Regions from separate parts of the Homo sapiens genome. Here region 2 is linked to region 1. The links come from fine-mapping of genetic effects on gene expression. A gene starts in region 1. The other region holds a variant in brackets. All regions are shown on one strand. Distances are between the middles of the regions. Region 1 holds the start of COMTD1 (catechol-O-methyltransferase domain containing 1). Region 2 has its middle 11 kb from the start of VDAC2.

Region 1 (2,901 bases):
CTCGTCTTGCGGGGGGAGGGAGGGCAGGTGCGGCTGAGTCCGCGGCCCCGGCGGCCCTGAGGCCCCTCCCAGGCCGGCCCGGGCTCTGTGACAACCGGCCCTGCCCTTAACCTGCCCGGCAGGCCCAGTCACAGCTCGGCCACACAGCAGCCTCGTTTGCAATGAATGGCTTCAAAGCCCTTCCCGCTTCGGTGCTCACCCAGGGTCTCCAAGGCGGGCTTCAGCCGGAGGTCGATCTTGTGCTCCGCCTCGGCCTGCGGAGGGAGCGGGTCAGCCGTTGCGCCCCCGCCTGGGGCTGCAGAGCTAGGCGCGGGCGCTCACCTGCCTCCACAGGGGCCGTCCCAGCTCCGGGGGCTGCGCGTCCACCTCGCAGGTCACCACGCGCCCGTCCGCGGGCAGCGCCAGGGCCAGGGCCAGGGCGGAGTAGCCCGTGAAGGTGCCTGGGACCAGGACACAGACGGGCTCAGCCCAGAGTGGGGGTCGGCCCGGAAACCTCGGCCCTCCGGGATCCCGGCCGCGTGCCCCTACCCAGGTCCAGCGCCTTCTTGGCCTGGATGAGCCGCGCCAGGTTGGCCAAGAGCTGGGCCTGCTCGCAGGTCATCATAGAATCCCCCTGCGGCTGCTCCAGGGTCAGCTGCGTGAAAGGAGAGGGTGGCACCAGCCATGCAGGTCACCCACCTTCGCCCTGGGGGTCCCAAGCCCCAGGGGCGCGGTTCTGGGCGTGGCCTGGGGGACTGGCCCTTCGGAACGCCCACCGCACCCGGCCCAGGGAAGCCGGAAGCCCAGGGAGGGCCAGGGCCCAGCCCAAGGTCACACAGCCACGTGGGACCCGCAGGGGTCGAGAGGGACGCCCGTTTCCGTCCCGCGCCCTGCTGACCAGCCTCAGGCTTCGCAGCGCCGGGTGCTCCCGCATGGAGCGGCTCAGAAGATACTGCCACAGGCGGCTGTCCTCGGGGGGAAGCAGGCACTGCTCTCGCCGGCCTCGCCATGGGGGGCACCGCCTCCCTGACGGGGAGAGGGTGTTGGATTAACCTGAGCCACGCCGCGCCCTACTCTGCGCCCGCCCACCCGCCCGCCGGGACCAGGTCCTGCTCACCCAGGAAGAGGCCAGTGGCGAAGGCGGCGCCCAGTGCGGCTGAGCCCAGGGCCAGCGCGGCGGGCACGGAGAGCCGGGGCACCGGCTGGGTCATGGCGCGGGCAGGAGGCGGCGGGAGGCAGTGACAGGTCACGTGAGCTGGAGCTCCTGGGACAGGTCTCGGACTCGCGGGCCCGCCGGGCTCCACCTTGTCGGGGCACTACCCGCGGAGCCGCGGTCTCGGGCATCATCTGGCGGCCACACAGCCTTACTGCAAGCCCCGCCCGAGAGAGCCGGGCGCGATCTGGTGGCCGCGCCGGGAACTGCGCCCCTGCGGGGAGCAGGCCAAGCGCCTAGATCTGAATTTTCCCGCCTGTGCCCGCAGTCCAGGTGCCTGCCTCCATTCCCCTCCTGCCAATGCTTTTTTCTCCTCGCCACCATTTATTCTGAGGCCCCTTGGGGGCATATGTGAATTGTGTATGGAGGGCGCCAGTGTAAGTTACAAGATAGTCACAAGTACAAGAGATAGAGATTAAAGGGGGAAGGCCTCCTGGACAAGATGCCCCAAAGCATCAGGCTGAAGGAGTGAGGGAACTGGTTTGAGGGCATGCAGCCTCGAATTGGGGTTCAGGAGCCCTGGGGTGGGCCTGTGGAACTGAGACCATATTCTTAGCTGTTAAAATCCTGCTTTTGGGGGCCAGATGGATACGAGTGTCTAATCTTGGTCCTGCCAGTCTCTCTGAGCCTCAGTTTCCTTCCTGTAAAATGAGGCCTACAATCTTACCATAAAAGGCACCAGATCCCACAGCTTCGCACACAGTAGCACAATACATAAGTGGCAGCTGCTGTTATGTTGGTAGGTTGGAATGAAGACATCTTGGGGAGAAAGCCGGTGAAGCTCCCTTGCAAGGTTGTTCTGTTGAAACACTGTCCAGAGAACACTGATTGAACCCCTACCATGCGCCAAACTCCGGAGGAGGTGAAAGACGCTGACGCTGTCCTTTTTTTTTTTTTTTTTGAGACTGAGTCTCGCTCTGTCACCCAGGCTGGAGTGCAGTGGCACAATCTGGTCTCACTGCAACCTCCACCTCCTGATTCAAGCGATTCTCCTGCCTCAGACTCTGGAGTAGCTGGGACTACAGGCACGCACCCCTACACCCAACTAATTTTTGTATTTTTTGTAGAGACGGGTTTTGCTATTTTGGCCAGGCTGGTGTCAGACTCCTGGCCTCAAGTGATCTGTTTGCCTCGTCCTTCCAAAGTGCTGGGATTACAGGCCTGAGCCATTGTGCCTGGCGTTGGTGTTCTTTTTTTTTTTTTTGGCAAGGTCTCTGGCAAGGCTGAAGTGCAGTGGCAAGATTACTGCTTATTGCAGCATCGAGCTCCCAGGCTCAGCAATCCTCTTGCCTCAGCCTCCCAAGTAGCTGGGACCACAGGCGGTCACCACTGTGCCCAGCTAATTTAAAAAAAAAAATTTTTTTTTTAAAGAGAAGGGGTCTTACTATGTTGTCCAGGCTGGTCTCGAACTCCTGGCTTTAAGTGATCCTCCTGCCTCAGCCTCCCAAAGTGCTGGGATTACAGGTGTGAGCCCCCGTGCCTGGCCTCTGGTTGGTATTCTTAGTGAAGCTGGTTTCAGAGATGCAGGTCACACACAGCTGGCGGGTGGCCTAAGCTTCACGACTTCTGCCTCTGTGAAATGGCGTTATGAATAGTCCCAACCTCCTAGGGGACCAAATGAGAAAATCCAGGCTGAGGACTTACACAGGGGACCAAATGAGAAAATCCTGGCACTTAGTGAGCTGTCATGTTACCTTTAAAAGGAGTCA
Region 2 (2,901 bases), 37 kb before region 1:
CCAGAATAATGGCCCTTTGTCCCTCTGGCCTCCTCATCAGCTTCCCTCTGTATTGAGTGTCCAGGCGGCTGCCAGCCAAATTGCCTGTGTGACTTTCCCAGGCTTCAGAATGCTCCCTTTCCCTCCTTCCATTGCCTCCCACACTGGCCCCAGAGACACAGGGCAGCCACATAGTAGATTCAGGCAGCTGTGGGATGTGAATCACGAGACATTCTCAGTGGTGACCCAGTGAAAGGTCTTGGAGAAGCCCCCTCCCTGCTGCCCAATTTACCCTCACTGTGGAAGCTCCTGTCCTCACTACAAATTTAAAAGGAAAGAATTTTGAAGGCAACTCTGTCAATGGATGCAAGTCATGACTGGAATAGTCCAAAGCAGTGGACTCTTTAAATGTTGTATAAATATTACTAGTCACCCTCCATGGGGAAGGCTTTGACAATGAGGAGGCAATATAAGTGGTGGCTCAGAGTATGCGCCTCACACTCAGAGAGAGCTGGCTTAGATTCTGTCTCTAGCTCTTGAAGAACTAGCTATGCATCCCAAGCCAGGCCTGTGCATCTCCGTAAGCTTGTGTTTCACGCTTAATGGTACCTGTCTCATAGGGTTGTTATGAGAATTAAATAGGCCGGCCATGGTGGTGGGTGCCTGTAATCCCAGCTACTTGGGAGGCTGTGGCAGGAGACTCACTTGAACCTGGGAGTCAGAGGTTGCAGTGAGCCACGATCGTGCCACTGCGCCCCAGCCTGGGTGACAGAGCAAGACTCCATCTCAAAAAAAAAAAAAAGAGAGAGAGAATTAAATAAAGCACATGAATTGTTTCGAGCAATGCCTGGCACAAAGGAAGTGCCTGATATGTGTTAGCCATGACTACTTTGATTGTGTTTATTATTCATGACTAGTGTCATCATTATTAGATATTTGGTGGGTGGTGGGGATAGAGTTGAGTAAGAAACAATTCTCAGCCGGGCGCGGGGGGCTCACAATTGTAATCCCAGTACTTTCAGAGGCTGAGGCGGGTGGATCTCCTGAAGTCAGGAGTTTGAGATCAGCCTGACCAACATGGAGAAACCCCATCTCTACTAAAAATACAAAATTAGCCAGGCGTGGTGGCACATGCCTGTAATCCCAGCTACTTGGGAGGCTGAAGCAGGAGAATCACTTGAACCTGGGAGGCGGAGGTTGTGGTGAGCTGAGATCACGCCATTGCACTCCAGCCTGGGCAACAAGAGTGAAACTCTGTCTCAAAAAAAAAAGAAAGGAGGGCAGGACAGGGCAGGGCAGGGCAGGGCAGGGCAAGATTCTATTGAAGAGCTTGATGGGGAAAGCAGAGTTGTGGTTTTTGGTTTTTTTTAGTATAAAAAAAAAA[G/A]TGGGCTGGGGATAGTGGCTCATGCCTGTAATCCCAGAACTTTGAGAGGCCGAGGCAGGAGGATCACTTGAGCCCAGGAGTTCAAGACCAGCCTGGACAATATAGAGAGACCCTGTCTCTACAAAAATAAGAAAAATAGCCAGGTATGGTGGTGCACGTGCCTGTAGTCCCAGCTACTTGGAAGGCTAAGGTGAAAGGATTGCTTGAGCTTGGGAGGTTAAGTCTGCAGTGAGCTGAGATTGCGCCACTGCATTTGTTTTGAAAAATAAGAGAAAAGAAAAAAAAGAAAAAAAGAATATAAAAAGGAAAGGAAGAAAAGAAAAACGAAAATATTGTGTTAATGATGTTCACTCGGAAAATTAAAAAAAAAAAGAAAATATGTAATAAATGTTATAAGGTAACAAATTCCATAGAATTTCAGAGGAAATAAAATGAACTTGTAGCTGGTAAGACAGAAGAAAATTGTGGTGGGAGTATATTTGAGCTGGGCTTTATAAGGATTCAGAGAATTTAACTTAAAACAGTGGGGACAAGGAGGCATTCTAGGTACAGTGAGCATAAGCAATGGCAGTGACACTAAACAAACCGTGATTTGGGAATTGCCTGTGACCTGAATTGGCACAGGTGGCAGGTGGGAAACATGACTGTGACAGAGGCAAGATAGGATCATGGTTCCATCATCATTGTGTCAGGGACCTTATCCTATGGGTAAATGGGAGCCACTGAAGATCCTTGAGCAGGAGTCTCTGCGTTATCCCCACTATTGGGGCTAAGCATTCCCACAGAATGTGCTGAGCTTTTTTTTTTTTTTTTTGAGATGGAGTTTCACTCTTATTGCCCAGGCTGGAGAGCAATGGCGCTATCTCAGCTCACTGCAACCTCTGCCTCCCAGGTTCAAGTGATTCTCCTGCCTCAGCCTCCTGAGTAGCTGGGATTATAGGTGTGCGCCACCACGGCCCGCTAATTTTTATATTTTTAGTAGAGATGGGGTTTCACCATGTTGGTCAAGCTGGTTTCGAACTCCTGACCTCGTGATCCGCCTGCCTCGGCCTCCCAGAGTGCTGGGATTATAGGCGTGAGCCACTGCGCCCAGCTGTGCTGAGCTTTTTAAAGAAACAAAACAGTGTTTCACCAGTGTTCCAACCAGAACTCTGAGCAAGGCCACAGGTTACTGACTGAACAATGAATAGGAAAGCCTTTTTTTTTCTCTTTTTTGAGACAGGGTCTCACTCTGTCACCCAGGCTGGAGTGCAGTGGCGCGACCTCAGCTCACTGCAACCTTCGCCTCCTGGGCTCAAGCGACCCTCCCACCTCAGCCTCCCAAGTACCTGGGAGCACAGGTGTGTGCCACCACACCCAGCTAATTATTTTGTATTTTTTGGTAGAGATGGAGTTTTGCCATGTTGCCCAGGCTGGCCTCAAACTCCTGAGGTCAAGTGATCTGCCCGCCTCAGCATCCCAAAGTTTTGGAATTACAGGCATGAGCCACTGAGCCTGGCTGGAAAGTCCCTTTTTTTTTTTTTCTTTTTTAATTGAGA

What was found.
Region 2: its variant is fine-mapped to the expression of COMTD1 in whole blood (TOPMed, PIP 0.99).

What each region holds. Positions count from the first base shown.
Region 1 is chr10:75,234,739-75,237,639 of GRCh38, forward strand. It overlaps COMTD1 (catechol-O-methyltransferase domain containing 1), which reads right to left and starts at 1,219. Exons shown (of 7, transcript NM_144589.4): 1 at 1,097-1,219; 2 at 878-1,005; 3 at 529-634; 4 at 322-440; 5 at 200-254; 6 at 1-5. The coding sequence starts at 1,190. RefSeq lists silencers at 1-177, 338-627, 758-837, 998-1,137, 1,173-1,467.
Region 2 is chr10:75,198,011-75,200,911 of GRCh38, forward strand. No RefSeq gene overlaps it. Among named protein-coding and RNA genes, the nearest start is that of VDAC2, 11 kb to the right of the region's middle. The variant G/A (reference allele first, on the strand shown) is at 1,364.